Homo sapiens: one gene and its partners. The protein of the gene in region 3 purifies or fractionates together with the protein of the main gene of each other region. This does not show direct contact. Each region holds a gene or a part of one and is shown on either strand. Other genes may lie near its edges.

Region 1 (7,888 bases), on a different chromosome or scaffold from region 3:
ATAAGTTCTTTAAGGAAGAAAGGAGCAAGCGAGAGAAAAGAGTCATTTTGCCATTTTATCCATTTATTATGTACAATATTAAGGCACAAGTTTAAGCAGCAAAGGAGAGGAAAATCTTTGGCTGACCAACAGCATCAATATTTGCTGTGGGGGACAGGCAGTGTTCTTGGAATCCCCACACTGGTACACAGACCCATTTGGCTGTATGGCCATGTACATCACCCCTCAATACAGACTGGCAATATGAAGACGTCAAACGTTACAGCCAGATACCAGTCTGCTGGGAAGAGCCGGCACGAGCACGGCACACTGCCACCAAGCACAGCGACACACACACACAGAGCAGGTTGGAGGGCAGCGGCAGCAGGACAGCTGAAATCGGGTGCCCATGCTTACCACTGTTTCACAGAATTTTACACAATTCTGTAAGTGCTCATGGAGGAGGAGGCTCCCTGTTCCTCCTCAAAAGGAAAAAAAACAAAAAACAAAAAAACACCTTGATTCAAATAAAACCAATGTGGATATATTTGCTTACATTCCGTTTTGTAATAAATACTTACAGGTGTCTCTATGTGAACAGACTCCTAGGCACAATCACATGTAAACACAACACCGGGCATCCAGACTTTGGGGGCTGATACAAGAAAACGCTGTATATGTAGTTCAATATAGAGAGAGCAGTATTCTAATTCTGTGAAGAAGCAAAGTTTCATGACAAAGAAACACCCCAGTCACATCATAACATGACAATAACATGCACTAAAGTAAACACAGTTTTACAGAATACCTACCAGATGTTTATATGAATGATTATGCACTTATATCTGTAGTGTATGCAGAGATGTGAACACATAGGAGGCATGGCAAGAGAATTGATTTTTAAAAATCTGTGTGCTAATGAGGATGATCCCCCCTTGAAGTGGACACTTTGAGAGGCTCTGAGGCCAAAGACTCATTCCAAGAAATTTCTTAGGGATTTTTTTAGAAACAAAAATGGTGTAACTTACCTTAATTGCCATCTTTTTTCATCCAACTGTGCTATCAAGCACTTGAGATTATTTCCAGAACTTAAATCCATCCTCAAAGGAGGAGGATTTCTCATCTCTAAGGGTAAACCAAAGGAACATGCCAAGCCCTGAAGGCCATTCTAGTAGAAGAGTTCCCAAGATATTTTTACTTGGCAGCACTATAGTCAATGAGCACATAGTCTCCCAAAAGACACCTTTTAAGGAGGGCGGGGTGAGATGAACACTTTGATCTTCTGTATGTTAGGAAAAGAAATTCCCACAAACAACCCTATAGTCATACCTCATATGTATGCACTCACTTATACACATGTCTTTATATACCATTAAATTACTAAGTGAGAAAAGGGTATACTACTTAAGAGAAAGAGGAAAAATTGCTCATTTGTTCCAGGAGAAATTCACTACTGAAATGCTAACTTTTGCATTTCCCCAGCCGACCAATTTCTGGTAACTTCTTAATTACTTTGCCTATCTCCCATGGAGCCACACGTCAGAGGCAAACTCATTAAACAATCGTCACATCTAATGAAGACATTTTAAACACTTTAATTACTTAAACAACAAGAAAAGAAACATTTATAAAGCATATACCAAGGCTGTCTCAGGTTTTAGGATGTGGAGAAGCCAATGGTAGGCTGGATACTCTCTGGCTACTTAAAGCCTTACCCATTTAAGAACATTTGTGGGATCCCACTGACTATGGTCATGGTACTCCTTTGCTTAAGAGGAGTGCAAGATCATTCAGAGAACACAGAGAAGCATGCTCCACTTACTCCAGCGTGGACACTGGTTTTGAACCCTGGTTTTGAAAAACACATCTCTTTGCTCAGCATAACTCCCTGCAGTCAAAACATGAGCCCCCTGCCTCAAAAGCTTTTAATGCCCCAATCTATTATCCACTGCTTCTGAGGTCCGCAGCCTCACCTGAAGTCTGTGTCCCTAAGTCTCTGGGACTCAGGTCAATGGGGAGGAAGAATTTCCCATTCTCTCAGCACCTGGCATGAAGGTGCTACAGCCACTGCATCATGAGGGTGCGCACCCAGGTGAGAACAAACAAGAGTAATGACTGGCTGCTCTGCACGGGGCATTCTGAACACCTCCTTCCTGAGTAACAGAAGCACTGAATTCTCTGTTCCAGGTTCAGAACTAATTTGTTGCAACTGTTTTGGTATCCATGCCAAGCCTTGTGGAGTCAAACTCATACATGAGTTCCAAAGAGCAACCCCAGAGGACTGCACCCAGAAGGGCTCCACCACTGCCTGCTCTCCCAACGAAAGCCTGAGGAGGGCCAAGGCAGCCCCTGCCCTGCGTGCATGGTTAGAACATGCTGAACTCTGCAGTGTCACTGGCTGCCAGCCTCTGGGAGGCAGAGAAAATGCTGAGAAGAAAACGCTAAGAAAGGGTTCTGCACATGCTCTGAAAGTTTTGGAAGATAATGTGTTTTTCCTGGCAGCTTAGCTATATGGACCTGCAGACAGTAATAGTTCTCATGTACAGAGGCATCTAATTAGTGAAACTCTAGCTTCAGAGACCTGACTCCAACTTCTCCAGTTCCATATAATATCCTGGCAGCACACAGAAACTGCCAGACAACGCAGTCAAGGGTGAAGCAGAACAATGCTGGAATACCTTCCCGTGAAGCCAGGGCCTCTCCCCTTCATCCTGAGATAGGACCCTCAAGTTCTATAATCAGGCTCCACTGGGAAAGTTTGAAGTCCAGGTCTCTGGGAAGTGCAGAAATATTTTTTAGGTATAGTTTGGAGCTGTGCTTCTGGTGGAACACAATAATTTCCATCTATGCCTAGCATTTATAGGTGATTCTAGGAGTTCTGGGCTTAGTCCTATTTCTTAGGCTCTGAGATGTGTGATAGCTGTGTGTGTGTGTGTGTGTGTGTGTGTGTGTGTGTGTAGTTACACGTGCACACACACATCACAGACAGGCATAGAGACTGCCAAGATGCAGTGCCGCATGTTAGAGGCTGTACAGCCAGGGTCTATGCCCAGTGCCTCTCCAAACTTTGTTTTAAATCATCCTAGCTTCTCCTGGCTGTGAGATTTCAGGAAGGGACTTAACCTTTCTGAGCCCATTTCCTCATCAGTGAAATCAGAATAATAAACGCACCCCCTGTACTCCAGGTGGGTGGAGGACTAATTAAAAGGTATTTACCACACTGTTTGCATACAGTTGACACTAGAAAATATAGTTGCATTATTTTTCTGAAAATCTGTTTAAGATATTGTAAGCTGCCCAGAACTCAGAGCAGGTACTCAGTATATGGCCGGACTTCAGGAAAGCTCTAATGATGAAAGAATTTAGTGCCCTGGCTTGGCAGGAAATTTCCCATAGAAGAAGACATTTTAAAGCTATAGATCCTGTTCTTAAGGAAGAGTCTCAGTAGGTTAAGAGAAAAAAAATACGGTCAAAGTCCAAAATACAATGCCGTTGAAGCCCTGAAACATGGCGATGTGTCTGTTTACAATGAAAACACTTGGCAGCTCAGGGGGACCTCGAAGAGCAAGCAAGTCTGACACCTGATTGGGGCAATCAGGTGTCTGGGGCATGAAGACGAGGCTTCGGGAGAAACAGCTGGGTCTCTCACTCTAACCTATGTCTAAGGGAGGCAGCCCAAGTTTGGGGTGGCCCAGACCTGATGGTAGGGGCTGGCAGAGTTGATTTACCTTCCTATCTCTAGACATTTTCCTTTCTGGTCCATCCCCAACATAAACTGGGGTCAAAATGTCCTTAAGAGAGTTAGCTGTCATCTCCTAACTCATCTCCTATGAAATGTGGTGGGAACAGAGATTAGGAAGGGATGTCTATGCCCTCTCCCCACCCATGTCCATCCTCAACCCTTTCCCCCATGGATGAGGCCTCCTGTGCCCTCTTCCCACACCCTATGGCATGGGGTGAGCTCCATGCTCAGCCTCTCAGAGCTCCTCAGTTTTCCTGTCTGCACAACAGGTACTCCGATGCTCAGTGTGAGACTAGAGGAGGTGATGAGCAGGTGGCACAATGTGCAGTGCCTATGGCCAAGCAGAGCCCCAGAGGGCCAGTTCCCACTCCTCTGTCGTACTGGGTGGCACAGAGGCTGGCCAAAGCCACTGATTTCTTCCCTTCCCTCTCCAGCTTACACCTCTTGTCTTCCTTCTGTCACCTCAATTTGGGGAGGCTATAACTTCACCGGGGTTACACACCCAAGACCAGTCCATTTTAGGATCCAAGCAAAGTTTCCTGAGTAGCACTCTCTTGAGTGTTTCATTTAGAAGGTACTTGGAAGAGGTACCCCCCTTTCTTTCTTCCTCTAAGTAAGCATGAGCAAAGGGAACTGGGAAAACAGCGATCCAGCTGACCTGGAGGTACAAAAACATCAGGACCCTGTAGGAGCATCTCTCTGATGGCCCGATGAGCTTCTCCTCTTTTCTAATCCAGCATCTCTTAGATTTGTAAAGGAAGCCAGTGTCTGCAGAGCTGAATATGCAATGTCACAGCAGAGGTCTAATGGACCCACCACCTAACACACTCCTGCCTCTTTTCCGTGGCACTTCTGTCTCACTTTGAATAAACTGCCTCAAAACTGAAACCCGGAAAAACCTGACAACACTGTATATACAACTGGCCTGGTAGGTTACAAAAGAAGTTCACAACAGAGGCAACCTGGTGCCACGGAGGTCTGGATGCTGATCGAGAGCAAGCAGAGGCGTGCGCGGGGGAGGAAAGAGTGTGAATACGCTCATGAGCCTCAATACAAGAAGCTATACGGGAGGCTGGTGAGATTCTGGAAACCACTGAGACAACTGTCTGTAAATTGTCATCTGTTTCCTGGAGTGCTGTCCTAAGTCTTCCCCAAACAGAGCAATGGAATTTGGAAATGTCAAGCTCCTTGCAAGACAGCCGATGTGAAAGACAAAAAAGCAAGTGCCACGATCTTAATGCAATATGTCACAGGGACCCACGGAATCTCCTGCCTCCTCAAAGCTTGCTTAGTTCACAGTCAGAATGAGGTTCGCAGCTGCAACCCAGCTATGCAAAGGTGAAGCAGCCAGGAAGTCGGCACGTGGCTTTGTCCTACTGGTCACTATCAAACACAGTAGGAATGATGACAGTTCAGGTACTGGTCTCATAAATCCCATACCTAAGGAATTCTGCTATGTCTTATTAAAAAGAAAAAAATGAAGGAACAACAAAAAATTAAAGACTGTAAAGCAGAGACAGAGATGAACTCAGAAGTTAGGATGGATGGGGACCGAGATCATAATCTATCCTGTTTAGAAAATACTGCAGAATTCAGAAAAGCTAAGAAGCCCAATCATCTCTTGAAAATCCAAACCAAACAGGTAATTAGGTGAAGACCAACTTTCATATTCCCCTCGCCCTCGATGCTTCTTCTCACTGCCACACTCACACTCACGGGACACCCCATGGTTGGCACAGGTGACACTGCATTATGCCAAGACAGGCTCTCAAGATTTCCTGGAGGCTTTTCTTAAATCAAACATGCTAAGAGGCAAGGAGAATGGGGGTATTCCAAGGATGATCCACATTTGGGTTTATCTGTTTATAATCAGAGAATGGGGGTACACAGGCCCTCCCCAAGAGATACATTTTCTGTACAATGAAAAATTCAGTTTCCTATTTCTTAACTTTGTTTGCAAACCTACACGCCTCTTCTCTCTTCCACCATGTGTAATAAAATCCATCGCATTCTCTTCTATCTTCAGTCATGTAGTTTTTGTGTTTAACATTTATAAAATGTGTTCTTATGAGTCTGAAATCTTTATCAGTTCAAATCATTCCTGATTTCCCATCTACAACCTTCTAGGTCTTTCTTCTTTCTCTGCCGCTTTCCTTGTTTGTCAGTGTTCTGTACTGAAATTCCACAGGGATGGCAGTTAGATGAGGACTTCCATCATCTCTCCATCAGGGAACTCGGGCTTGTGCAGCAAGCTGCTGACCCGGCCTCTGTGGTCAGGCGACTTCCCATGGCCAGGAGAGTTCTCTGCCAAATAGAGGGGAAACATCAGCTGCCCATTCCTCAGGAGGGGCATAGGCTTTCCAGGTTCTCTAAAATGGACCCACGTCCGATACCACTGCACACCCAGGATTCTCACCACAGGGCATGTGAGATGATCCAGCCCACAGTGGGAACATGCAGAATGACTGGGCCAGGATTCAGACACAAATACAAACCAGGATGGTGAAGGGAGAGGATTCAGAAGGTGAGGATGACAGTGGGACTCTGTACAGGAGCCCCTCACACCCTCTACTCAAAACTATCAGGTGCATATTCTGAGCTAGGCACTTTTGACAGGTTCTCTGGCTTACTTGGAAAAGAATCACATCTTTAAAAAGTGACAACATTGTATTTACTTGTCTACTTTGAAAAATGAAATAAACAACCCCCTTGGAGGAAACAGTTAACTTAGGGCCCACAGAGCCTGCACCTCCTCAAAAGAATTCCTGAAAAGGGAGGTCCCCATGACCATGATTAGTCTCAGGTTTTAGGATGTGGAGAAGCCAATGGTAGGCTGGGTACTCTCTGGCTACTTAAAGCCTTACCCATTTAAGAACATTTGTGGGATCCCACTGACCATGGCCATGGTACTCCTTTGCTTAAGAGGAGTGCCTTAAGAGGCCAGGTCTATTCTTACCCAGGACACTTAGGGACTCACTGCAAAGATCACCTCTCCCAAGTTGTCTTCCCGTAAATATTTTAAACAGCTCGTTAGTCCTGGCCCAAGTGCTGTGCCACACGTTAACCGACTCTGCAGGTCAATCTACCTTCTCCTTCCATCACAATGTCCTCCACTGAGGCCAGAATCCCTGGTAAGTTAGAGCCCTGAAGGCAACAGTGAACTTGTGCCTTTGATGTACCTGGTGCCTAATTCTGGCTCCCAAACATACCAGAGGGCATTCAGCCCCTTAGAGGGTCTGTTGTCACTCCATCCGGGGAAAGGTTAGTTAAAAAGTATGCATTGCCAGGGTAGTCTCAAGCCGTGCACTCATTTCAAATAGTAATAAACTAGATGTGTCTATATGCATATTTATTCCCGTAATAAGAAAGGGCACACATATCCTAAGTGCATTAGAATAGCATCCCCATAGAGTAAGAGCTGATGGGTGCCCCTGCTTCCTCTCTAGCTCAACAAAAGATTCTCTTAGGCCAGACAGTTCCACAGTTTTCAGGGGCATCAAGGTGGGGTAGCCCACATACCCAGTTTCTCTGCGGTCCCTTTGGCCGCTGGGTGTTTCAGGACGGGGCTGTGAGCAGGGGTCGTGCTCAGCCGGCCGCGGCTGGGAAGGGAGGCCATGCTGGGCCAGAAGAGCTCGGCACTCTTGTCAGTCTGTGTGCTGCTGTCCTTGCTGCCTGTCTTGGCGTGGGCACTGCTGGCTGCCGTAGTGGAGGCTATGGAGGACAGTGCTGAGGTGGGTGGGGGTGGCAGCAGTGGGGCAGAGGCATGCTCATGGTGCTCCTTCCCCAGCAGCAATCCTGAGGGCAGAGAACAGATTTTTCAACATTCTTTTTTTCCTTTTTTTTTTTTTAAATCTAGTCTTGCAGATCTGTTCCTTGTTGATTGATGATTGCTTCATTCATTCATTGATTCATTCCCCAAGCATTTAATAAACACTTATTACAAGGCTGATAAAATAACAAACACTGAGAGAATAAAAAATGGAAGACCTAGTCCCCTTCCTAAAAAATTGTAGGTTTTTTTTGTGTGTTTTTTTTGTTTTTTTTTTTTGGAGTGGAGAAGTAGTTGTCAAGTAAACTGATTATAACTTAATATATAAACTGTAGGATACAAATAAATTATTCACAGGGTGGTATGGACGAACAGAGAAGTGCCTAATTGCCAGCAGG
Region 2 (7,888 bases), on a different chromosome or scaffold from region 3:
CTGTTTTCCAGCTAGCCATGCCCCAGACATCCATAAATTCTCAGATTATTTACAGAAGGCAATTAAGGGAGACCAGATATATCCTGATATTTTAAAATAAGAGACCATTTCTTATCTATTACAAACCTTTATCATGTTTGCTAGGAAGTCAGCTGTCATGCAGGGAATCCCCCAAGCTTGTCCAACCCAGGACGGCTTTGAATGCAGCCTGACACAAATTCATAAACTTTCTTAAAACATGATGAGATTTTTTTGCAATTTTTTTTAAAGCTCATCAGCTATCATTAGTGTTAGTGTATTTTATGTGTGGCCCAAACAATCCTCCTCTTCCAATGTGGCCCAGGGAAGCCAAAAGATTGGACACCCCTGTGGCTGAAGGAGTGAGCCACAGGCTTGCTGTTAACCCTTTCCCCCTCATCCCCTTTTCAGTACATTCAGACCTATTTCATCATTTTAATTGCTTTTTTTTTTTTTTTTTGAGACAAAGTCTTGCTTTGTCACCCAGGCTGGAGTGCAGTGGCACGATCCCGGCTCACTGAAACCTCCACCTCCTGCGTTCAAGTGATTCTCTTGCCTCAGCCTCCCAAGTAGCTGGGATTATAGGCGTCTGCCACCACGCCCAGCAAATTTTTGTGTTTTTAGTACACAAGGTTTCACCATGTTGTTCAGGCTGGTCTCGAGCTCCTGACCTCAAGTGATCCGCCTACCTTGGCCTCCCAAAGTGGTGGGATTACTGGCGTGAGCCACAGCGCCCGGGCTGATCGCTTTTGATAATTTACTTTTTCCAGGAGTTTTGCTATTAAAAATGTGGTAAATACCCTTGCACACACATCTTTGTCCCCCTTTGCCAGTTTTTCTTTCAGAGTGACACTCAGAAGTAAAAATTGTACACTCTTAGGACAACTTAGCAGTGTCAGTATACATTGTGTAAATTTTTATTTCCACCTATTTTTTCATGACATTTGGAGTATAAACTATTATTAATCTCTAATAAATCAATAAATGTCAGTTGAGATTTGGCAGTAAAAAAATGTCATCTTATTGTTTTAGTTTGCATTCTTCGATTTAGAGAGGTTGATGTGTTAATGACCAGCAGGCCGCTCTTGTCAATCCTGTTGGGCTGTATGCTGCTATATGAGAGTACAGTGCTGTCATGACTGCCCTTTTGTTATTCACAGTTACCTGTCACTGGGTAGTTGTAAGAGTTGTACAGTTGAGATGCTGAGCACATCAGAAGTGTTTTTTTGATGCTCTATTCAGCACTTCTTTTGGTATTCCCATTGAATCCAGTGAACATTTGGATGGAATACTTAGACCTTTTATCAATGTCAATGGCATCCGTTATTGGTTTTCAATATGTTTTTTTGCTTAATGATCTTGAATTAGAAGATAAAGATGTCATTCAGCCACCATATCCAGGTTGATGTAAGAAAATTTTGATTGTATAATACTTGTATTTCTTTGATGGTTCATTACAAGTGTGTATCACTAGTAAAAATGATCACTGAAAATGTCTCATTTTGGTCATAGCAAAGGGTTTTGCTAGCCTTTTGAGTTTTTAATTACGTTACATTTTAGATTAATTTCATCAAATCACTGGAATTAAGAAAACATTATCCATAGAGAATGCCACTTTGAGTGGTTTCTTTTTTCTTTTCTTTTTCTTTTTCTTTTTTTTTTTTTTTGAGACAGAGTCTGGCTTTATTGCCTAGGCTGGAGTGCAGTGGCATGAGCTCAGCTCACTGCAACCTCCACCTCCCAGGTTCAAGCAATTCTCCTGCCTCAGCCTCCCGAGTAGCTGGAATTATGGGTGAGTGCCACCACGCCTAATTTTTGTATTTTTATTAGAGACGGGGTTTCTCTGTGTTGGCCAGGCTGGTCTCGAATTCCTGACCTCAGGTGATCCACCCACCTCGATCTCTCCAAGTGTGGGATTACAGGTGTGAGCCGTGGCGCCCAGCCTGGGTGGTTTCTTTCAAGCTGTAGATGACTAGTAAGAGTCTGAGATCATTTGTACAGCTTGGGAATTTTTCTTTTATTTTTTGTTGAGATGGGGTCTCCCTTTGTCACCCAGGCTGGAGTGCAGTGGCATGATCATGGCTCACTGTAACCTCAACCTCCTGGGCTCAAGCGATCCTCTCACCTCAGTCTCCAGTGTAGCTGGGATTACAGGTACAAGCCACCACACCAGCTAATTTTTTTGTTTTTGTAGAGATGAGGTTTCACTTTGTTGCACAGGCTGGTCTCAAACTCCTGGATTCAAGTGATCCTTCTGCCTTGGCCTCCTAAAGTACTGGGATCACAGTGAGCCACTGCTCCTGGCCTGGTTCAATAAATTTTGATAAGTATATACATCTGTGTAAACCATACCCCCTTCAAGACACAATGTGTCCATCACTCCAAAAAAGCTTCCTTGAACCCCTTCCCAGTGTAGGGGAGGGAAAATAGCCTCTACCCTTCTAAGTTTTCGGTTGGGGCCCCTGTAATAAAGGGTAGATTAACAAGAGAAAAACATGTAAACTTGTTTAATATAAGTTTTATGTGACATGGGAGCCTTCATAAGGAAAGGAAGACCCGAAGAAACAGTAAAACCTGAGTGTTTTTAAATTAGGTTTGATGAAGAAGGAAGAGTTGTGGAATGTGATAGGACAGAAAGGGATATGAGCCAAGAGTAGTAAACAGGGAAAAACTTAACAAGGCCTGTTTGTTCATATTCCTCTGGGTGTTCCTCTATTTTTTTTTTTTTTAATTTTTGAGACAGGGTCTCACTCTGTTCCCCAGGCTGGAGTGCAGTGGCATGATCATAGCTCACTGCAGCCTCAACCTCTTGGGCTCAAGTGATCCTCCTGCCTCAGCCTCCTGAGCAGCTGGGACTATGGGTATGTGCCACCATGGGTGGCTGATTTTTGAATTTTTTTTGTAGAGATGGAATCTCACTGTGTTGCCCAGGCTGGCCTCAAACTCTGGGGCAGAAGTGATCCTCCTGCCTCGGCCTCCCAAAGTGCTGGGATTATAGGCATGAGTCAATGCGCCCGGCCACTCTGTCTTTTGAGATTAAGATGCTGCTATCTTCTGGGTATAGAGAGGACACCTCTCACATGAGGATCCTATGATCTGCTTCAGGGGAAGTCTTTTTTGCACCTGCTGTTTCTCAGATTCCTTCAACTTAAAATATTCAACAATGCCAAGGTGTCATATTTTGGGAGTAGCATGTTCTGAAGCCTGTCATAGTCAGTTCCCTATGACCCTGCCCCAGGTAAATTAATCTATAATTGTAGATTAGTTTTGTCAGTACTTGAACTTCATATGAATGTAATCATACAGTATGGTTTGTGCCTTTTTTGGGTCAGGTTTCTTTTTTTCCACATATCATTTTTGAGATTTATCCTTGTTGTGTGTATCAGTAATTTTTCCTTTTTATTTCTGAATATTATATACCATTTGTTTATTCATCTGTTACTAGACACTTGGGTTTTTCTAGTTTTGGGGTTTTTGTAAATAAAAATGCTGTAAACTTTCATGTGCAGGCGTTTTTGTGAGCATATATTTTCATGAATACTGAGTAAGTATTTGTGAGTGGAAGTGCTGGGTCATATAGTAAGTGTATTTTTAACTTTATAAGAAACTACCAATTTTCCGAAGTGGTTGTGATATTTTACGTTTCTCTTAGCAATGTACAATAATAGTTCCAGGCACTTCACAGCCTCGTTGAAACTTAGTGTTGTCTGTTTTTAAATTTTAGTTACCTTAGTGGGTGTGTAGTGGCACCTCATTGTGGTTATAATTTTGAATTTCACTGAGTGGAGCCTTGATAAAGAATGTTCTTGAGGTTTTCCTTAATTTTTCTACAGGATTGTAGCCATATACAATTGAAATTCATCTTTTATATTGTTAAATTTTTTCTTTAGGTGTCTTTAAGAGTGATTGAAGAGAATAATTCAAAATGCCTGAAAATCCTGCTACAGGTATACTGGATATATTGTTCTATAATTAAATTAATTATTTAAAAATGGAATCTCAAATGGGACTTAACTATTACTCTACTTATTCATCTTGACCCAAGATAAACTGCAGGTGCTGCAGGTACTTGATCGCCTGAAAATGAAATTGCAGGAGAAGGGTGACACGTCGCAGAATGAGAAGTTATCTATGTTTTATGAGACACTAAAGAGTCCTCTCTTCAACCAGATACTCACACTTCAGCAGTCCATCAAGCAACTGAAGGGTCAAGTAAGTTACCCATCAGAGTTTTACATTAATATATTATATTAATATATTCAAACCATCAAAGAAAGATAGAGGAGATAGACAAAGACAAATTATCTTTAAGGACTCAGTTCAGCAAAGAGACTGTATTGGGACCTGTAACCTATAACCTGTGGGTAGCATTGGCATAGATAATTTAGAAATATCAATAATCAATTTTTTCTTTGGTAACTGGATGTGGTGGCATGTACCGGTAGTCCCAGCAACTCAGGAGTCTGAGGTGGGAGGACTGCTTGAGCCCAGGAGTTCCAGGTTGCAGTGAGCTATGATCATGCCACTGCACTCCAGCCTGGATGGCAGAGTTGAGACCCTGTCTCAAAAAAAAAAAAAAAAATTGTGTTTGGTTTTAGAATATGGTTTTTGTACTTATTTAAGTATGTAAAGGTCAGATGCTTTGAGAATTCTCAACATCTTCAAAACTATAAAATAGTGCTTAACTTAAATATATTTTCTTTTTATTTTGAGACAAGGTTTCTCTCTGTCACTGAGGCGGGAGTGCAGTGCTGTGATCCTAGCTCACTGCAGCCTTGACCTCCCAGGCTCAAGCAATGTTCCCACCTCAGCTTCCAGAGTAGCTGGGATAGGTGTGTGCCACCACAGTTGGGCTAATTTTTAAAAATTTTATAGAGGCAGGGTCTCCCTATGTTGCCCAGGCTGGTCTCAAACTATTGGCCTCAAGCAGTCCTCCTACCTCAGCCTTCCAAAGTGCTGGGATTATAGGCATGAGCCACCTTGCCCAGGCGTATTTTCCTTATGAAGTCTTTTTTTGTGTGTGTGTGTGGTCTTTTTTTTTGTGTGTGTGTGTTATTATTATTATTTTTTTTAGTAGAGACGGGGTTTCACTGTGTTAGCCAGGATGGTCTGTATCTCCTGACCTTGTGATCCACCTGCCTCAGCCTCCCAAAGTGCTGGGATTATAGGCGTGAGCCACCTCGCCCGGCCGAAGTCTTTTATCTAACAAGAAGTGATCATGCCCTTATAGCACAATAGTCACACTTCTCTTAATTATCAAATATTTGTTGTCTTTCATGCGTATTCTGATTAGAAGTTCCTTGGAAGCAGAATACCTGGTATTTAAATATATAGTTATGTTTCTTCTACTCATTTACCACACTATCTGGATTCTTCAGGCTCTAATACATCATTATTGAATAAGGGACACATATCACCTCTTCTTAGAGGGGTGCAAATTAGCAGTTGTGGGATTTTTTTTTTTTTTTGGTGCTGAGATTGAACCAGAAATTAATTGTTTTAACTGTCCTCTTGGATTCTTTGTTTTGGGGTCAGGGATGGCAAATTACTTTTAAATCACCTATTCTGGAAGCTGAACTTGAATAGTAGCTATACCATAGATGAAATTTGGGCAGAATTTAAAACATAATTGGAGCTAATTTAGCACAGTTAAGTGAAAATTTACAAAATTTGGGAAAAAATGGTTTTTGCTGATAAACTAAAATGCTTGCCCATTAAGTATTTTGTGAGTGATTTGTTTATAGCCAATTAAGGATTAAATTCTACATGTGTCTTTCTGTGAATTGCTTTCTTTAGACCAGAATTTATACCCTAATTTTAGCACTGCCTATATTGATGTTTAGCTTTCTGTATTTCTCTTGGTCACAGAATATCACAATAGTGAATGCTGTTGGTAGCAACTGAAATTGGCAAAGATCAGCAGAAATCTATCACACTTGTTGGACTAAGAGTGGCTGTAACTACCCTATCCTAATAACAATTCTTTATATTTGTATAGTTTGGAGTTGTTATGTACACAGTCATATTTTATGCATTGGACTGTATAATCCCTGTAGCCAGGGGTTTTTTATTTTTTCTTTGAGGTTTTATTGACATTCATTTTTTTTTTTTTTTTTTTTTTTTTTTTTTTTTGAGGCAGAGTATTTGCCTGGGCTAGAGTACAGTGGTGTGATTATGGATCATTGTAGCCTCAACCTCCTGGGCTCAAGCAATCCTCCCACTTCATCCTCCCAAGTAGCTGGGCCTACAGGCATGTGACACCATGCCCAGCTAATTTTTGTATTTTTTGTTGAGACAAGAGTCTCACTATGTTGCCCAGGCTGGTCTTGAACTCCTGGCCCTGAAGCAGTCCTCCCACCTTGATCTCCCAAAGTGCTGGGATTACAGGTGTGAGCCATCACACCCGGCCTAACATTTATTCTGTTTTTTTTTTTGGAGACAGAGTCTTGCTCTGTCATCCAGGCTGAGTGCAGTGGTGCAATCTCGGCTCACTGTAGCCTCCACCTGCGGGATTCAAGCAATTCTCTTGCCTCAGCCTCCCAAGTACCTTGGAATTACAAGTGTGTACCACCATGCCCGGCTAATTTTTGTATTTTTGATAGCGATGGGGTTTCACCACTGACATTTATTCTTAATGTTACCTTTATTCTACTGTTTTGGCAGTTGTATCAGCCAATGATATTTTAAATTATGTCCACCATAATTACATGATTCTCCTCTTTCTATCAATGTTTAAGTGGCTCCGTGACTCACTGCTAATCTTGAGTAAGTTACTTAACCCCTGTGTGCCTCGGTTTTTAGGCTCACAAAATGGGATAATGATATCTCATTAGATTGTTGTAAGAATTAAATGATAATACCTGCAATCATGCTGGTATAGTACTTACTCATAGCAAGCACTCAATAAGTACAGTTATTATCATTATATACTACCTGTGGATCTTTTGTTGCTCCCCACGTGGAATTGTACAGATAAATGGAAAAAGGTTTAGTGCCTTACACTGTTATGTGACTGGATGCATCTGTATATGTGAAGTGTAAAAAGATGTCAGTGTACATGCTGTTAACTTGGACTAGTGGTAGAAGGCAGGAAATAAGAACAAATTTTAAGCTATTAAACATTTTGTGTAATACTAAATTTAAAAAATTTTTAGCCTTGTGAATACACAGATTTGATCTATCTTTACCTTATTTCTTTTCCATGTATATATTTAATGTGCAAAGTATCTATGTAATGGTCAAAATATATTTAATAAATAGAAACAATTTTTCTATAGATTTCTGTTGATTCTTTTTTTTTCTCTCCAACAGCTCAACCATATACCCTCAGATTGTTCAGCCAACTTTGATTTTTCTAGGAAAGGTTTGTTAGTGTTCACAGATGGTTCCATCACTAATGGAAATGTCCACAGGCCCTCTAATAACTCGACTGTATCTGGGTTATTTCCGTGGACCCCGAAGTTGGGAAATGAAGACTTTAACTCAGTCATTCAACAGATGGCTCAGGTAAAGTTGTATCTTCTCATGGAAATATTTAGCTTCATTTCTCCTGTTTTAGTTTTACAAAGGAGCTTATACTCATTCTTTTTGCTGTAAAATGTATTAGTATGTATTTTGCTTGCTTCTATTTTTATATTGTTAGGAGAAACTGACACCATTTTCTAACCTGTGTGTTGAAAATTTATTGACTTAAAATTACATAAGGAAAGTATCCATGTATGTGGTAAGGAGAGCTTTTTAAAAAAAAATTAACATTTATTTTTTGAGATAAGGTCTTGCTAAGGAGAGTTTTTAGACAATGACTAATTGAACACATCTCTATTCTTGTTAAAATAAGATTTTTGGCCAAGCGCAGTGGTTCACACCTGTA
Region 3 (7,888 bases):
TCTTCTCTCCCTGAGAGAAGTATGAATTAGTCATTGTGATGAGTGGGTGAGTAAATGGTCCAGGGAGATACAGTATAATTTCTGGGCAGCATTGAGGGCTCATGGGAAGTGAGTGATCACCATTTCCAAATGATACCATACAGCGTGGTTGTGTGCATTTTTTTTTCCAGTTGCTCAGTTGGAGAGGAGGGGGTGGAGAGTTCACTTTGACAGGGCTGGGTTTTGCCAAGTTAGTATGCCAAAGTGAGAGGAGGCAAGGGAACGGTTGTAATGGTGAACCATGGGACGTCAGTGGGGCCTGAGAAGCAGGCTAGCTCGAGAGAGCCCGGGCTGGGTGGCATTGAGCTCAGCAGTAGAGCAGTGGGCAACTAGGCTCCCTGTGATGCCATGCAGGGCATTTGGTGGAACTGTTGCCTGCGATATTGGGAAGGTGGGCTGTGTATTCCTCCAAACCTGTAATCTGGGTCTGGGGACATGAGAGACACTCATAGTAACCCCCTGAGAAGTAGCATGGTGAGATGGCTACACATAAGGAAGCTGGAGTCTCTGTTCAAATCCAGGCTTTGCCATTTTCTCCTTGGATGACCTGGCAGCTTACTTAGCCTTTCTGGGCCTTGATCCCTTATCTTCCTGGGGCCATCACGAAGATTAAATGAGATACTGCACATGAAGTTCTTAGCCCACTGGTAGACACATAGACTCAACTCAGTACAGATGCTGTTGCTGCCTGGCTGAAAACAGACTGGGGATTCCACACATCCTGCTGTCCGGAGTCTCTGCGTGGGAGAGGACAGGCCTTTTTCCTCCCATCTCACTTCCTCTCCTCCTCCAGCCACCAGAATACGACAGCCTGACACTCCATGTCCCCACCGTATATGGGAAAGGAGGTTTCCCATTGGCCGCAGGCAGAGACAAGCCACAGTGAGATGAGCGCTTTGGCTGCTGCCATGGCAACCAGCAATGACCAGACTTCAATTAGGAAGGAGGAATAAAAGGCATCCAATTAGGAGAAGAAAATAGGATTGAGCCTCTTCTCGCTTAGGAATGCCCAGGGCCAAGGGAATGCTTCGCTGGAGGAGCCCAGGCTTGCCAACCCCTTCAAGTCACCACCCCCATCTCTGGGCTCCAGGGAGCCCTGTGCTGGCAAAGAGACAACACAGAGGCGCTGACGTGTGTGGACTTCAGAGGGAGACCTGCTGGGGTTCAAATACGGCTTCTGCCACTTTCCTAACTGTGACAGGAAAGGTCTTTCACCTCTTTGTGCCTCAGTTTCTCCACTGGAATACGCTACCTATTTTGCAAGGTTGGAGTGAGGATCAATAGAGATAATGGGCTGGGGTGGTGGCTCACACCTGTAATCCCAGAACTTTGGGAGGTGGAGACAGGCGGATCACTTGAGGTCAGGAGTTCAAGATCAGCCTGGCCAACATGGCAAAACCCCGCCTCTACTAAAAATACAAAAATTAGCCGGGTGTGGTGGTGGGCGCTTGTAGTCCCAGCTACTCTGGAGTCTAAGGCAGGAGAATTGCTTGAATCTAGGAGGTGAAGGTTTCAGTGAGCCAAGATCACGCCACTGCACTCCAGAGACTGAGAGCAGGACTCAGTCTAAAATAAAAAAAACAGATAATGCATGTAAAGAGCTTAACTCAGTGCCTGCCATATAAACTGCAACCTACTGGTATTAACTACTGCATTATTGTCAGTAACAACATCAATAGCAGTGATGCTGTGTTGTACCCAGCTAAGAAGGAGAGATGGGAACCGATATCCAGTGAGCACAAACTGCAAACACTTTGCTGCTCTACATTCTTGCTACCCAAAGTGTGATCCAGGAACCAGCAGCATTGGCCTCACCTGGGAGCTTATTAGAAATGCAGAATCTCAGGTTCTGCTCCAGACTTGCTGAATCAGAATCTGCATTTAGCCAGAGCTCCAGGTAACTTGTGTGCATGGCACAGTTTGAAGCGCTGCTTCAGCGCCTTAGTTAGTCTTCAGAGAACCACCTCCAGGAAGGCAGTATGAGCCAGATTTTACAGATAAGGGAACTGAGACTAAGAATTGAAGACTGTGAGGAGACACAGCTGGAAGGGCAAGGCTGGTGACAGCCCCAGGCCACAATCCAAGGATGTGGCCCCACAATGCCATGATAGAGAAGGGTTTTATAGCGCATGCAGATCAAGGCAAGGATGGAGAGCAAAGAGATTCCCTTCTCTGGGCAAAGGTCTGTGATTTACAGCAGGAGAAAGGGGCGAGCCCTCCAAGAAGGCAGTGAGAGGCTCTACATTCCAGCTTCCAGAAATGGAGGCAGGAGAGGCTCGGAGAGGTGTATACATCTTGTTTTTCCCCTTTGCACATACCCCACATTTTCCTCCATCACTTCAACCCATCCATTTCCAACACGGCCCTCCTCACAGTTTGTTTACATCTTAGCCATCAATGCTGGCACCTTGTCTGTTTGGTTCCCCATTGAATCCCCAGCCCCAGACACAGGGGTGGGGACACAACAAGCTCCCAGTACAGATCTGAGCATGAGTGGAGCGACCTTCTAGGTATAATGCCCACACTTGGGCTCCTTTGTGCCCACAGTTGAGTTATCATTAAAATATTCTAACACTAAATGGCATCAGGGTTAACAAAGCCCTTTACTTCTTCTAATTCACTTGTACATCACAAGCCCGAGTTAGCTATTATATAAATCCCCCTTCTACAGATGGGAAAGCTGAGTATCTGTCTGCACTTGGGTCTGCCTGTCTCTTAGGACAAAATGTACTTGGGCTACTTCATCCCCAGTCCTGACTCCTGCCAATGCAGTGAGAGATGGAAGCCGGAGAAGGTCAGTTTCAGGGAGGAGGCTGGCAATGGCCCCACTAAACGAGAACCCACTGTGGATCAGACACTTGAATAGGTGTTTTACGGGTGCTATCTCAATCCTTATAAAGATTCTTCCAGTGGGCATGATGGAGGCATTATCATTTGCATTTTAGGGATAAGAAAAATGAGGATCAGAGATGTTAAGTACCTTGCCCAAGGTCATCCAGCTATACAGCAAGTGGTAAAGGTGGGATGTGAATGCCTATGTGTTTGCTTTCATTACTCTGTGCTTTTTTTTTTTTTTTTTTTGACACAGGGTTCTGCTGTTGCCCAGGCCAGAATGCTGCGGCATGATCAGCTCATTGCAGCTCAAGGGATCCTCCCATCTCAACCTCCAGAGTAGCTAGGACTACAAGCATGCACCACTATGCCTGGCTAATTTTATTTTTTGTAGAGATGGGGTCTTGCTGTGTTGCCCAGGCTGCTTTCGAACTCCTGCACTTGAGTGATCCTCTGGCCTTGGCCTCCCAAAGGGTTGGGATTACAGATATAAGCCACCACACAGCCATAGTCTGTGCTTCTTATCTAATCTCTCATGCTGTATAGTAAAGCTGCAGTATGTGGCTTTTTCCAGGTTCTGGCAGTTTTAAAAGGCACTTTCAGGTCCATTACTCTTCCTCTTGTGAAAGAGCTCCTTCCCTCCCACCCTAAGTCTGAGAACAACATTCACCTGTGGAAGCCTCGCTGCCTAGAATCCAAGATGAGCCTGATTGATAGCACAACCTGCGTCTCCTTCGAACCTTCTTCCTGAAGCTCAGGGTAGACCAATCCCCATAAACACAGAAGGCCGGTCAGCCAGCCAGCCAGCCAGCCAGCCAGCCAGCCAGCCAGCCAGCCAGACACGGCCCTTACCAGGCACTCTTCCAGATGGCTCCTGTCGGTGGTACAGACATCGACTCTTAAGGTCTTCTGGTGAAGGGCTGGATAGGACATGGATACCCAGAACACCTCATTGAACACTAGAGTGTCTGAGGCGTCCAGAGGCCGGGTCCGGAACAGGCAGGTTGTGCTTTCAGAGCAAGGAAGGACAGCCACGCGGATATTCCTAGAGGGAGACAGAACCGCAGGAAATCTTGGGTCAGCCCATGTCTGGGGCTAAAATGTTGGACTAAACAGCTGCTGAAATCCCTAAGCAAACAACAGTGGATGAGAGTTTGTAGAAGTGAGGAATCTGGGGAATCAGGCCCCTATACACTGGAAGGAACTTTGACAAATCGAACAAAATTCCAGATGCATTTGTCCTTTGGTCCAGACCCTTCACTTCTAGGCATTATCCCACAGATGCCCCTGCATGAGTACCAGTGAGCTATGGAGGAGGCTATTCAGCCTGGCACTGTCTGTGTGGGCAGAAGACTGAAATTGACCCAAGCATCCCATCTTGTCTTCCTTCCGTTTTGTCCGCCTTCCTGCCCTTTCTTCTTCCCACATGTGCCACCCTCACAGGCTGGCTGAGTGTAGACCACAGACACATAAGCTTCTGTTGCCACCCTCCAGGCCTTACGATCAGAGAAAACTTGGAGGCAGATGAGTGCAATAAAGGATAAACCCATCTACCATGGGAGGAGCCCACAGGCAGACAGAGCAGGTGTTTGCATCCTACCAGCATCAAGGTAACACGCAGTCACACCCCTCCAAGAGAAGCAGTGACTGGTGTTGACTCTTGGAAACAGAAGACCTATCTCTCTCTGCAAGAAACACTTGAGCTTAGGAGAAGATAAAACAGACTGTGACCATTCTTCTCCATGAGGCTCAAAGTCCAGGAGGGTAGGGCCCAGGAAGGATCTGCTCACCACCCCATTCCTAGAGCTGGCATGCAGCAGGTGCTCAGCACGTAATGGGGCAGGAATTCACACAGTCATCTAGAGAGTGCTTGTCTTTACAGTTGGTGTGCTTGCCGTTGTGCCTGTATTCACATGCACAGCACCGACATTCAGCATCACAGTCATATGCAGTACAAACCCACAGTGCCTTGACAAGGCCCATAACTGGATCAGGACAGGGCAGAAAAGTGACCCCCAGGGGTAACTCCAGAGGGTTAGGGTATGAAATACACCTGTCCAGCTACATACTCACACTTTCTGGTCTTGTTGCTGCAACAGAGCAGAAAGGTTACTCAGCTGGATGATTAATATTGCAAATTGCTTATTCTTCTCATCATACCTGAAATGAAAAGGGGCATATGAAGTACCTATTAGTAACACACTCATCTCTCTCATTCCTTCTCTCCATTAAAAGTCACAGGACGTGGCTGTTGGCTGCCCTGGGGCCTATGGTGAGCTCTAGAGCACAGGCCCAGTGCTTTGCTGCCATGCAGGGATGTAGAGCTAGAGCTGCCAATTGTTTGAAAATTTTTTTTTTGTTTTGAAACAGGGTCTCACTCTGTCATCCAGGTTGAGTGCAGTGGCATGATCGGGGCTCATGGTAGCCTCGACCTCCCAGGCTCAGGTGATCCTCCCACCTCAGCCTCTCAAGTAGCTAGGACTACAGGTGTTCACCACCACACCCAGCTAATTTTGTGTATTTTTAGTAGAGATGGGGTTTCATCATGTTGCCTGGGCTGGTCCTGAACTCCTGGAATCAAGTGATTCCTCTGCCTCAGCCTCCCAAAGTGTCAGGATTAAAGGTGTGAGCCACCACACCCAGCCAGTTGTCTGAATTTTTAAAAAGAACCCATAAATGCGGGTGAAATTTCATGATATGGAAATGTTGTCAACTAATTCCTATTAAAAAATATTGAAGGCCAGGTGTGGTGGCTCATGCCTGTAATCTCAGCACTTTGGGAGGCCAAGGCGGGCAGATCATTTGAGGTCAGGAGTTTGAGACTAGCCTGGCCAACATGGTGAAACTCCATCTCTATTAAAAATACAAAAGTTAGCCGGGCGTGGTGGCACACACCTGTAATCCCAGCTACTTGGGAGGCTGAGGCAGGAGAATCGCTTGAACCCAGGAGGCAGAGGTTGCAGCGAGCTGAGATCACACCACTGCACTCCAGCCTGGGTGACAGGTGAGACCCTGTCTCAAAAAAAAAAAAAAAAAAAAATTGAGATCATATCATCCCCCAACAAAAGAAAACAAAAAGAACAACCATGTGTGTATTGACCCAATCTGGGCTGCAGCCCCCAGTGATCAACTTCCATCCAGATCAATGAAACCTAGATGGGATGGAAAGACAAAAGCCACAGCAACAATGAACAAACACACTGAGAGGCAGGAGGTCTCAGTCCCAGTCCTGGCTCTGCTACCAGCCAGCTCAGTGAGTTGGGCCAAGTCATAAGGTCTTTTAAAACCCCATTTCTCCAACCTCATTTCTCCTATCTGTAAAGCGGATGGCTGGGAGGTGAGGAACGAATCAGCATCCCTTCAGTTAAGAAGCTGCAATGGCCAGCAGGTCCTGCTGGTGCTGCCTTCCACCCTGGGCGGCTGTGAAGGTAAATGCTGGGGAACGCTGTGGATGAAGAAGGGACCCCACACAGACCGTTCCTTCTGTCCTCCTCGTCCTCGTCACTTACTTCAGGGCAATCTGAATTCGGGTCGCACCCACTGCTTCCGATTCGTCACTGTCAAATGCAGCAGCTTCTGAAGCACCCAGTCTGAAAGGCAACAGGGGAGGAGGAGTTAGGCTTCCCTACAGTGAACAAACTATTCTGGGAGGCTGAGGTTACATCCCCAGGAAGGAAAGTTGGGGTTTGCTCAGCTTCCCTTCAGGTCCTTTTTTAAATTTTAATTAAAAAAAATTTTTTTTAGAGATGGGGGCTCACTATGTTGCCCAGGCTGGTCTCGAACTCCTTGTATCAAGTGATCCTCCCACTGAAGCCTCCCAAGTAGCTGGGATTACAGACTCACACCACTATGCCCAGCTTGGACTCCTCTCTTAAGGGGCCTTCCCTTTCTCTAGTGCTTGCTCCTTAGCCATATACCTTTTTCGTAGCTACCACAGAACTAGCACTCCCCCAAACCTGAAGCATCTCTAACCCCAGGAAAAGTTATGCTGTCTGTGCCTTGGGCAGCCAAGAGGAAGGTGGGGTCATGCCCTCTTGGGGCTCCTCCCACACACTGTGGGGGCCAAAACCTAAGCCTCTCCACAGGCCTAGGCTCTGGATATTCAGAGTTCATGGCTTACAGGGCCACAGAGAGAGCCAGCACCCAGACACCTACCTCTGCACGGAAGCCTCGTACACACCACTGTCTCCAGCCACTGACTCGTCCGATACGGCGGCTGAGACACAGGCCACTTTCAGGCCACACCCCTGGGCCGTATTCACAGCTAGGGAAGGAAAATGGAAAGGCAGGTTCAGGAACCAGGAAACTGCCTTTGCGACTCCCAATTTTGTTTTGTTTTTGAGGCAGGGTCTCACTCATCCAGGCTGGAGTGCAGTGGCACAATCATGGCTCACTGCAGCCTCGACCACTTCGGGTTCTGGTGATCCTCCCACCTCCGCCTCCCAAATACTGGAACTACAGGCATGTGCCACCATACCCAGCTAATTTTTGAATTATTATTTTGTTGTAGAGATGGGGTTTTGCCATATTGCCCAGGCTGGTCTTGAACTCCTGGTCTTAGGCGATCTGCCTGCTTTGGCCTTCCAAAGTGTTGGGATTACAGGCGTCAGCGACTGTAATCCCAACACTTTGGGATTCGGGGAGCCTGAACTCCCAATTTTGATACACTCTCTATGGAAGACAGACGGTTCCACCAAATTCCAACCACCTCTAAATGCTAAAGCAAAAAAAAAAAAAAAAAAAAAAAATTAAAAAAAAGTTTGCTTTAGGGTGATGGAAGGAGTCACATGTGATTTTGTGTTTTACCATCCCAGGCTCTTGAGTCGAACTGCCTGGATTCAAATCCGGCTCCACCACTCACTGCTTCATGACCTTGAGATACTGACTTAATCCTGTTAAGCCTCAGATGCCTCATTTGTAAAACTTGGATAATAATACCTACTTATAGGGCTGTTGACAGGACTCAGCGAGACATTATAAGGGAAGTCCTTAATATAGAGATTGGTGCAGGCAGGCA

What was found. The genes of interacting proteins can lie anywhere in the genome.
Region 1: the proteins of WWC1 (region 3) and AMOTL1 purify together in Homo sapiens (affinity purification with mass spectrometry; 2 studies listed by BioGRID and IntAct, with this or other methods). This does not show direct contact.
Region 2: the proteins of WWC1 (region 3) and PATJ purify together in Homo sapiens (affinity purification with mass spectrometry; 2 studies listed by BioGRID and IntAct, with this or other methods). This does not show direct contact.

Annotation. Positions count from the first base shown.
Region 1 is NC_000011.10:94,868,826-94,876,713, reverse strand, and holds part of AMOTL1 (angiomotin-like protein 1), read right to left. Parts: intron 7,517-7,888; coding exon 7,241-7,516; intron 6,026-7,240; coding exon 5,919-6,025; 3' UTR 1-5,918. UniProt on the Homo sapiens protein: Inhibits the Wnt/beta-catenin signaling pathway, probably by recruiting CTNNB1 to recycling endosomes and hence preventing its translocation to the nucleus.
Region 2 is NC_000001.11:61,758,950-61,766,837, forward strand, and holds part of PATJ (inaD-like protein), read left to right. Parts: intron 1-3,908; 5' UTR 3,909-3,943; coding exon 3,944-3,965; intron 3,966-4,063; coding exon 4,064-4,230; intron 4,231-7,329; coding exon 7,330-7,524; intron 7,525-7,888.
Region 3 is NC_000005.10:168,427,280-168,435,167, reverse strand, and holds part of WWC1 (protein KIBRA), read right to left. Parts: intron 7,136-7,888; coding exon 7,027-7,135; intron 6,462-7,026; coding exon 6,381-6,461; intron 5,032-6,380; coding exon 4,945-5,031; intron 3,917-4,944; coding exon 3,724-3,916; intron 1-3,723. UniProt on the Homo sapiens protein: Regulator of the Hippo signaling pathway, also known as the Salvador-Warts-Hippo (SWH) pathway.